Regions from separate parts of the Homo sapiens genome. Here region 1 is linked to region 2. The links come from fine-mapping of genetic effects on gene expression. A gene starts in region 2. The other region holds a variant in brackets. All regions are shown on one strand. Distances are between the middles of the regions.

Region 1 (5,367 bases), 45 kb after region 2:
TCCTCCTCCTCCTCCTCCTCCTCCTCCTCCTCCTCCTCTTCCTCCTCCATCTCCTCCTCTCTTCTTCTTCCTTTTTTTTCTTCTTTCTTCTTTCTTTTTCTTCTTCTTAGGCAGGGTCTCACTCTGTTGCCCAGGCTAGAGTGCAGTGGGATGGTCATAGGCTCAAGTGATCCTCCTGCCTCAGCCTCCTGAATAACTGGAACTACAGGTATGTGCCATTGTATCTGGCTAAGTTTTTGTAGAGACAGGGTCTCACTATGTTGCTTAGGCTGGTCTCCAACTCCTGGGCTCGAGCGGTCCTCCTGCCTTGGCCTCCCAATGTGCTGGGAGTACAGGTGTGAACCACTGTGCCAGGCCCCTTTAATTTATTCTGAAAATGGCGTGTCAGGAGCTGGGTCTTGGCTGCCTTGCTTGCATTGTGAAATCCCCTTGCCTGGCAGGTAGGAGGCAGTCGATGCATACAGGGTGAGTGAATGAAATGTTAGTTAGTTGCATTACATTGAAGTGGTCTAAACCTGACTCTAAGATGTGACTACTAGGCTGCTGATCCTTTTATGATTTTTCAAGTGCGTAGTTATTTTCCTTTTAAAAGCTAATCACATTTCCTTTCCTGACTGATCCTCTGTTATTTCTGCCTCCTCCCCCAAGGGGCTGACCACCAGCCCCAGGCATCTCCTTGGCCAGCTCAGTGGATACACACACGTCAGGAAGACCCTCCCTTGCCCCAGCCTTCCTTCGTGGGTGGCACTGGACACTGGGCAGATGGAAAGGCCCTCTCCATGGAGCACTGGGCTGGCGAGGGCCTTCCTGTCTGTGCCCTCATGATGTCCTCACTTGGCTGTCGAGGCATCTCCTGGGCCATGAAGTGCTGTTTGCTGTCCTGGCCTTGGATTCCTGCATCAAGTCTCCCAGCAGGAAAACTGTTAAACCAAAACCAGTGTTGGGAACTGCATCAGAGCTGGGGACCACATCAGTGCTGGGGACCTGGATCAGCATTGGGGACCTGGATTAGCCCTGGGGACCTGCATTAGTGCTGGGGACTCGCATCGGCATTGGGTGTCTTTTTGTTGCTTCCTCAAGTCCTAGTTTTGACTCTGGATGAAGCTTGGTTTGTGCCGTGGGAGTGGAGTGTTGGGGGACAGGGGTGACCGGCGGGTGAGCCCTCACTGTTGATCCTGGCCTCGAATGGGAGAGGGGCACTAGTGCCCCTGGGAGTGGGCCAGGCATGTCCCAGTCCACTGCCTGCCCCAGAGCCCCGCCTGGAGCACCTGCTGGGTCGGGACATGGGCCTCCCGTGGGCCTCACCGCTTCCTGCTTCAGCAGAACTGGGATTGTCAGTTAATCGAGCAACACCTCCAGGAAGCCAGCCTCAGGAAAGAGCTTCCACAGGGAGTTGGGGGACTGGTAATTGGAATAAATAAAAGCTAATCGTGCTTCCTGGATGCCAGGAACCACTGAAATTTGTGGATTCCCACAGCAGCACATGAGGCTGGTCATTGTTAATAACCCCTTTTTACCGACGAGGAACCCAGACCAGACAGAGAGCCCGCCTGTGTCACCTGGTAGGGAGGGGCTGGGCCTGGTGTTATAAACCAGGAGAGGGTTCAGGCCGAGGAAAGGGGGAGCAAGTTGCCGGCCAAGGTAGGTATCATGCGAGTCCTACTTCTCCCCTCATTCAAGGACCTTCCTTTGGGGAAGTGAGTGCTCCCGAGAGCAGCCTGCCGCCTCCGTGTCGGGGCAGCCTCAGCTTCTTCTTTCTGTGTCCGATATTTGATTTCTGTTGTCGTGGAAACGGGGTGGCAAGTGTTCCATGTGTTAGCATTTGGTCCTCCTGACGTAGTCGGCACACGGGAGATGCAGCTGGGGTGGCACGTGCCCACAGTGGTGCCACCTCTTGCCGGGGGTCAGGCAGAGGAGACCCAGCTCCGTGCCAGCTTGCAGACCCCCAATCACTTCTCCTGTCTCAGGGCCCAGAGAGCAAAGGCAGTGGGAGGCCAATGTCTGTTGTTCAGTTTAGCTCTGAGCCACGTGCATCTTCAGTCAGCCCAGGGGCCTGGGCGCGCCCTTCCTTCCTTCTTTGTGCATGGGGGTTTTCCTGGGGAGCAGTTGCCCTGGCCCATGAGGCTGATGGGAGTCAAGACAGAAATAGTGGTCTGTGGTCAGCAAGGAGCTATCGCTGGAAACACCCCGGTCCTTCCACAGCCTGACCCTCTGTGACCTTCCTCAAAGGCTCCCCAAAGAGGCTTTCCCTTGAAGTGCAAGTCATAGTGGCGCCCCTGCCACGTCCCTATATGAACGGGGTGTGTGCCCGCCTGCCCTCCGACGTCCGCCGGCTGTGCTGGTCTGCAGAGCTGCCGCCAGCTGCACCCTCCTCGCCAGTGAGTTCTGTTGCTTTCGTATCATTTTCAGCAGGAGCTAAACCCAGGCCAGCCCTTCTTTTCTTTTCTGCTTTATGGCAGAATTTTGTTTTGCAAGAATGGACCCTGGGTGGCTGCTTGACTTTTCCCAGGAAGGTGATGGGGACGTTGGTGTTAGGACGATGGGCAAGGGGGTCCAGGTT[G/C]TCTCACTGCGGCCCCAGAGGGATGAGGGTCTGACTTGTGGAGTGAAATTTCCAGCACTCTGCTGGGGGCGAGTAGATCATTGGGCCCAGAAGAATGGGATTTGGAACATTCTCAGGCACATGCTGCAATTAAGATTTTCTTTTTCATAGGGGTACCTGATACTGTGGGTTTCTCTCTCTCTGTCTTTTTTTTTTCTCTCTGAGATGGAGTCTTGCTCTTGTCACCCAGGCTGGAGTGCAATGGCGCGATCTTGGCTCACTGCAACCTCTGCCTCCCAGGTTCAAGTGATCCTCCTGCCTCAGCCTCCCAAGTAGCTGGGATTACAGGCTCCCGCCACCGCGCCTGGCTAATTTTTGTATTTTTAGTAGAGACGGGGTTTCATCATGTTGGCCAGGCTGGTCTTGAACTCCTGACCTCAGGTGATCCACCCACCTCGGCCTCCCAAAATGCTGGGATTACAGGCATGAGCCACCGCGCCCGGCCATGGGTTTCTCGTTAGTGGTCTTCGGTTCTGTGTTTCCCCTCTAAGTAGCTGATCGTGGCCGGTGCCTGGCTTTCCCCTGGTCACCACTAGATATTCTGTCTTGTCTTTGGGAGGCAGAGTCAGTAGAAGGTGCTTTGCACTGGGCATGCCTGGGAGTGAGCCCAGCCTTGCTGTTATTAGCGCCCATCGTGACGGTCGGCCAGGCTGCCCTATGTTCGATTTTTCCTCCTGTGAAATGGGAACAACAGTAGAGCTGATGTGTCCTGGGCTTTCTGCATCCCAGGGACTATCCCAGCTCCTTAACGTGCTTTGCTCAGTGCTATCCTCCTAAAAAGTTTTCTTTTACAGTTGAGTAAGCTGAAGCCCAGAGAGGTTAAGTAACCTGCCCAAGGTCACACCGCAGATCGGAATGGGAGTCAGGAGTGTACCCAACAGCCTGGCTCCCTAGTCAGTGCTCTCAACCTCAGCTTGAAGGCCGCCTCCCTGGGCCCTGCTAGGGGACCCAGTAAGATGACAGTTATTCACATTCTCCTTTGTTTCTGATACCAAGCAAACTCCTGGTAAATGCTCCTTCCCCACTTTTGTGGAATAAAGAATGCACATTTTTTTCTGAGCTCTGCCTGGGTATCCTTAAGGAGAGGGACGCTGTGCCTGGGACGCAGATGAACAAGATAGGAGCTGTTTCCTGGAGGAGCTCCCAGGCTGATTTTTGCCTTTGATGTTCTGCATCTTTTTCACAGGCTTTTTGTAGATGTGTGGGGATATTTCTAGAGGAGAAACCAGAGGTGGAAGGAGGGGCATAATGAAATTGAATGCTGGGCATCTCTTAGCTCACATTATATGAGGCTCTTCAGGGACAATAGACCTTGCAATAAAAGGCAAAAAGGTGATTGCGCACAGAGTGCTTTTCCTGCACAGTGCTGGGCGGGATGGGGTGGATGGGGCTTGGCGGCTGGAGGAGGGTAGACCCTGCCCGCACCTCCTGGGACCTGTGCGGGACTTTGCTCACCTTGCTGTTTCTAACCAAGGTACCAGATTCTCTTCACTCAGGTGTGTCAGATTTTAACCCTTGAGGCTAGAACCTTGCCAGGCTTATTCGAAGTCAGTGGTTCCTAGTAGTCACAGGGCCCCTGCCCTAGACCCCAGACCAGGACCCCCCGGCCCCTGCCCGCCCGCCTTGGCCTGGTGGGGTAGGAGTCACTGTGAAAGGGGTCCTGGAGCCCAGTATCACTCCAGCGACATTTCCCAGAGAGCATCCTGGGGCCAGTGTGGGGTGTGGGGGAACAGATACTGAGCGCTCTGTCCCCTCCCCTTGGAGAATCTCACAGTACATTAGCAGAGTCAAGACTCTGAGAAGTCCGGTAGGAAAAGACACCTGCTTAGCTTCCCTTAACTTCACGACTCCTCCACCTCCTTGACCTTTGCTTGATTCATGTGTGACCTGTGAACGTCTAAACTGCAGGACTCACTTTGGGAGATACTGATGGAGACCAAATAGGTGTCCTGCTCATATATCCTCCACTTCTTCAGTTTTGCTCAGGATCCACTGGGCTTCCTAAAATGCAAACGAATTGAAAAGCTGTGCTGAATGTGTTTTTCTCTGTCTGAAAGTACAGCCACCCACGAAAGGAGGAGGTCTGCTAAGTTTTCTTTTAGAAAAGGGGTCCCCAGGCTCTGAATGCTTGAGGACCTCATTGGGATCACCCCCTCCATTGTGGGCTACCCATCCTCCACCCGCTGTGGCCTATTGATAACCTCCCAGCCACCACCTATGCTCCTAGAGGCCCTGACTGGAATCCCTGTCCTCACCCTGAGTTTGTCACCTCCTTCCAAACTTCGTGTCCTCTGTTGCAGTTGAGGACCTGGAAGTCATGATTGGGCTGATTAGTGATGGGTGTTTATTTTGAATTCTTAACTAAACAAGGAGGAATCACATCCTAGCTCCGTATTTTACTAGTTATGGGACCTTGACTTTCCCAAGATCTACTTTCCTTGTCAGTAAAATGGCAATAATCGGGGTAACCCATACCCTGATTGCTGAGAACCCCTGTAGGCGTCCATGCCTGGCCCAAAGCCAGGACCCAGGAAGGGAGGCGCAGCTGGGCGGCCTCTTCTGCGTCTCTGCCAGTTGCTGGCTTGGATTCTAACACCCTCCTTCCCTCCCTCCCTCGCTCTCTACCAGTGGGATCTGAGACCATGAAAACGTTTGAAGGTTTCTCAAGCGTCTGTGACTGCCCCACGTCTGTCGTTGGGTGGAAAGGACTTTGTAATTGAACGGAGTCAGTTGTAATGTGAATGTCATGTGGAGCTGCTTTTCCTTGG
Region 2 (5,367 bases):
TTCTCCACGGCCAGCTCCAAGATGGAAAGGTGGGGGAAGATTCAAGTATATTTTCATTTTCTATGGCCTGACTTGGGGAGAAAAAGGAGCAGGTGAAAGGAGGGAAGGAGAAAGAAGGTCAGAAAGAGAGAGAAACTACACCTGAAGCCTGCTTCCAAAGATCCAACATGATAACACAGGACTATCGTTCCCCTTTATTGCTCTGAAGCTGTTTCCACACTGCTTCAGGAACCAAGGAAAAAAGAACAAATATTGTAACAAAAGATCTGCTTATTGCTATAGTCACTGAGGAAATAACAAGGGTGATGGGAATTATGAGCCAGGCATGGTGGAGGAAAACCAATGCATAAATATCATCATCTCACAGGGTCTTTGCAGATGATGAGGTGAAGATGAATCACCAGGATGGGCTCTAATCCAACATGACTGTGTCCCTGTAAAGTCTAGACTCACACACACACACACACACACACACACACACACACACACACACACACACACACACACAGGGCCTAGTAGAGACGGAGGCAGAGACGGGGCAATGCTTCTACAGGCCGAGGAACATGGAAGATTTGCTGGCAAACCCCAGGAGCCTGGAGAGATGCAGGGAACAGATTTGCCCGTGCAGCCTCCAAATGGAAATGAACCTAGCCTACACCTTGATTTGGATTTCTGGCCTCCTGCTGAAATCCTAATCCCCAGTACACAGGGGTATTACAAGGACACGGTCATCTTGGATTACAGCCCACTCTGGTGACTTCATCTTCACTTGATCATCTGCAAAGACCCTTGTGAGATGATGATATTTATCAATTGGTTTTCCTCCACCGTGCCTGCCTCATAATTCCCGTAGACCTTGTTATTTCTCTCCAAACTGTGAGAGAAGACGTTTCTGTTGTTCTGAGCCCTCCAGCTCATGGAACTTTGTGCTGGCAGCCCCAAGACACCCCAGTGTCCTCTCCCTGTCTCTTCTGCCTGGTGGGTCTTCTCCTCCTTTACTGAAAGGAAAAGGGCATTTGATCCTTGTTCCAGGTCAAATGTCCCTTCCCTGCAAGCCTCCTCTGCCCACAGCACTTCTCCCCCACCCCATCCACATGGTCCCTGTCCCTCCTCCATGCTGGCCACGCTACACGGCCACTGTGTCCTGTGCCCACGTTCTCCTTGACCACAAACTCCTGGAGGACAAAGCTCTGTGCCCTTGGTCTTCACGCCCCTGGCTGAGGACTGGGCCTGGCACCAACTTGACCAACAGAAACATGTACTGCACTGGGGGGACTGGGGGGCAGCCAGCACAAAGGGAGACAGAAAAACCATCTCAACCCACACACCCAGAGCTGAACCCACTTCTCCCCAGGTGCCGTCCTCTGCTGAGTGATCCACCATGGCCTGGCAGGACACCCAGCCTTCACTCCTCCTACTTCTTTTTTTTTATTTTTTATTTTTTTTTTATTTTTGGAGACAGAGTCTCGCTCTGTCACCCAGGCTGGAGTGCAGTAGCATGATCTCTGCCCACTGCAACTTCCACCTCCCGAGTTCAAGCGATCCTTGTGCCTCAGCCTCCCAAGTAGCAGGGATTACAGGCATCCACCACCATGCCCCGATAATTTTTGTATTTTTAGTAGAGATGGGGTTTCACCATGTTGGCCAGGCTGGTCTTGAACTCTTGACCTCAGGTGATCTGCCTGCTTTGGCCTCCCAAAGTGTTGGGATTACAGGTGCGAGCCACTGCACCTGGCCTACTCCTCCTACTTCTTCAAGGCTGGGGCTTCTGGCTGTGAGCATCTCAGAAATCTGTTTGCTTTTCTCCTAAGTCACCGTCCGCCTGCCTGTGCCTTCTCTGTCTCCAGCACCTGCTGAGCAGCCATCAGCCAGAGGCAACATCTGTGACATCACAGCTCAAAGCCCTGCCTGGGTATCTAGGCTGGGCATGGTGGCTCACACCTATAATCCCAGCACTTTGGGAGGCCGAGGCAGGCGGATCACCTGAGGTCAGGGGTTCGAGACCAGCCTGGCCAACATGGCAAAACCGCATCTCTACTAAAAATACAAAAATTACCCGGTCGTGGTGGCGTGCACCTGTAATCCCAGCTACTCAGGAGGCTGAGACAGGAGAATCGCTTTAACTCAGGAGGTGGAGGTTGCAGTGAGCCGAGATTGTGCCACTGCACTCCAGCCTGGGCAACAAAGCAAGACTACGTCTAAAAAAATAAAATAAAATAAAACAAAACAAAATAAAATAAAATAAAATAAAATAAAATAAAATAAAATAAAATAAAATAAAATAAAATAAAATAAAAATAGCCCTGTCTGGCAGTCCTCGGGATGAAGCCGTTTCCTCTGCTTCCAACACATGCGAGGCCTGTCTCCCCTCCTCTCCCCTCCCTGGCACCCCACACTGTCCCCAGGGCCTGCTCTTCTGCTCACCTCATGGTACCGGCCTGCAAGCCATTTCCTGGGGCCTCCCCGTCGCCTCTTCCAGAAACAACTCCTGGAACTCCCCTTGGAGGTCAGGCCAATGACCTGTGCCCCGCATTGCCCTCCATCCTCTAAGCTTCCCGTGGGTAGGGACAATTCCCAGTTCTGAAGGGCTCCCCCTGCCCCGGGCCTGGCTCTTGGCAGAAGCTTAACAACAGACCGGCCACGTTCGTGTGACCTGATTCTCTCCGGCTTTCAGGACGTCCTGAGGCTGCACCCACGTGGCAATGGTGTCTGTCGCGCTGTCGCCTGGATCCGGCACCACTAGCGGAGCCGAGCAGAGCCCAGGGCTCCAACGCGTAGGGAAAAGGCTGCGCCGCTCCCGGGGTGGCCCCACGCCCCTTCTCTGAGCTTGAGCGGCGGCGCGGGACGGGGACGGCTCTGGCCGGGACCAGCAGGCCTCGGGCATCCGGGACGCCGGGGCCGCGCTCCAGGCCAGGGGCGGGGGCGGGACCGGGGCGGGGGCCGGCGGCGGGGCCGCGCCCTCGGCCTCTCCCCGGGGCGACCGGGCGGCTCCACACGCGCTGCGCCCGCCGCCGGCCCCACGCGCGGCCCATGTCCTCCGCGCCGCGCTCGCCCACCCCGCGGCCCCGCAGGATGAAGAAGGACGAGTCGTTCCTGGGCAAGCTGGGCGGCACCCTGGCCAGGAAGCGGAGGGCGCGCGAGGGTGAGTGCGCGCCCGCGCCCGCCGACCCCCGGGGACCTGCCCGGCGGTGCCCGCCCTCGGCCCTAGAGCCCCACGAGGCCGCCCCCGCCCTCCCCCACGCACCCCGCCCGGCCCACGCGGCTGCGCGACCTTCGGGACAGGCCAGGCCTTTGACCCAGGACCCGTAAACAACGGCCGGGACCTGGCGCGTGGGGCCGCGGTGGCCTCCGGAGTCTGCCAAACGCGCGTGCGGGCGCCTGCGCGGCGGGGACCTCGGGCCACCGTGCGGGGCCCGCGCCTGCTCTGCCTGCCGGGTGTTCAGCTCTTCCCTGGGCCAGCGGCATAGCCAGCCGCGCGGGGTGACCGTTCATTCCATGAGCAGTGACGCTCACGTGTGCAGGGCACTCTGGGCAGACACGGCCTGGGGGACCCACTACTGGGTGTTGCGCGGGCGCCCTGCAGGGTGCGGGGCTCAGGGCGTGCAGGGCTGAGGCCTGGGAGGCCTGCGAGCAAGAATTGCAGAGATCCCATTAAAAATTTTTTTTTTTAAATTTTTTACTGCGTGTGCTCACGAAACACTACCAACCTCGTACGTTTTAAAGATTGTTAGAGTTGCAAGGGATAGTCTGGTGTCTTTAAGTGTACCGCTTGCCCAGGGCCTCCTGGGAGATACATTCTGGAATTTTCTGCTTGGGTGGGGAGGTTCTGCCCCGGGACCATGCCCTATAGTGAGATTTCGGATTGGTGAGAGGTGAGGGGAGCTGCTGTGGAAAGGCAGATGGAGAAAGGCCGGCCTCAGGTGGGTCCCCGGGAAGGAGCCCTCCCATAGCGGGTATGCAGTACGGTTTCCTTAAACCACCTGGGCCTGACATATCCCCTGGGAACTCTTCCTGTGCCTCCAGGGATTAGTGTACCCCGGGATGCAGGTCCCCCATTCATTTCTTCCCTGGGACTCTTGTATTCCTAGGGATGTGTGTGCCCCGGGAAGACATATGACAGATTTGCCTCTAGGCATGTGTGTGCCCCCATGCACCTGCTCCCCAGGATTTTTGTACAGTGCAGGGAACGCTTGGTTCCCCAGACATTTTCTCCCAGGGATGCCTGTGCCCCCAGGGATGCGTGTCTTCCCACCCGTGATCCTGTTCCAAGAGGGCAGGGTCTTGTCCCCTTCAGTAGGTCTCCTGGCGGATAGGTCACTCTTCTCTCAAGCCTTACACTGGAGGACCCACTGTAGCTTGTATTGGTCGGTGTTGGTCACGTCTCCTAAATGACATGATTAGTGGCTGTCACCCTTCTATCATCCCCACTGTTCTTCCATGCAGTCATCAGCACCCTCACCAGAAATCATTTCGGTTCCTCTTTATGGCTTGCAACGATTATAGACGCAAGTGACGCTCCCCTCCCAATTCAGCCCACAGCCTGTGGAGCGCCCGCCATGGGCCAGGTGCTGCTTAGACCCCAGGAAGAAAAGAGCGGGGGCGGGGTGCTTGCTTTCGTGGAACGGGGAATGAATACATAGACAACTGGCGCTGTGATGACGTGCCCCGGAGCACATAGAACAGGGCGATCAGAGCCAGGGGAGGCCTCTGAGGAGGGGACACTTGAGTGGAGGCCAGAAGGAACCAGAGGAAAAAGTCTTTCATAGAATGGCAAGGAACCGGAATGTTCTGGGCTATTGCAGCTTTTTCTAGGTGCCGTTTACGCTCTCGGAATAGGAAGAACACACACCCAAAGTAATGGACTGGGCCCAAATTCCAAAGTACGCAGTGCTTCTCCTCCTTGCCTGTATGAATTGATGTGTGTCTAGAAAATTCAGGCCCAGCCTGGTTTAATTCAAATGCACCAAGAATTCCGGTAGCAGGAAGCATCCTGTGCTGAATAGAACGGGCGTGGAGGCAGGAGGAGGAGCAGGACGCCGGGCACTGCTGATGCTGCTTTCGCTGGGGGTGAGCTGGGCGCCCTGCCTCGGTTCTCAGGGTTGGGGTGCCTGGCAAACAGAGGGCCACAAACCCTCCTTGGATCTAGGCACAGGAATTGAGGGACAGGCTGGATTGGGAAGGGTTTAGCGGCTTCTGTGTGGTCTCCTGGGAAGTGGAAGAGTCAGGAAGACTGGATAATGAGGGCTTGAATAATTGAGAGTCGCTGGTATTTCCGCAAGCCCATTTGCCTTGGCAACATGCGCTTCTGCCACTCCAGGGTGGAGCAGCCCCTGGCCCTGACTTTGGGCCGTCAGAGCTATGCTCGGT

The links. PIP is the estimated chance that this variant, and not a neighbour inherited with it, causes the effect. A credible set is the group of variants that fine-mapping cannot tell apart.
Region 1: its variant is the best candidate, but not a certain one, in a credible set for the expression of PARVB in whole blood (TOPMed, PIP 0.54).

The regions. Positions count from the first base shown.
Region 1 is chr22:44,066,785-44,072,151 of GRCh38, forward strand. The region is part of intron 1 of PARVB (parvin beta); the gene reads left to right. Among named protein-coding and RNA genes, the nearest start is that of PARVB, 45 kb to the left of the region's middle. RefSeq lists enhancers at 475-1,040, 1,041-1,604, 1,687-1,836, 1,997-2,136, 2,169-2,732. The variant G/C (reference allele first, on the strand shown) is at 2,561.
Region 2 is chr22:44,021,310-44,026,676 of GRCh38, forward strand. It overlaps PARVB (parvin beta), which reads left to right and starts at 2,993. Exons shown (of 13, transcript NM_013327.5): 1 at 2,993-3,142. The coding sequence starts at 3,031. It overlaps LOC124905131 (a long non-coding RNA gene), which reads right to left and starts at 1,466. Exons shown (of 2, transcript XR_007068125.1): 1 at 142-1,466. RefSeq lists silencers at 2,861-2,970, 3,001-3,120, 3,191-3,240, 3,291-3,500 and enhancers at 4,271-4,350, 4,361-4,440, 4,481-4,530, 4,601-4,650, 5,151-5,260.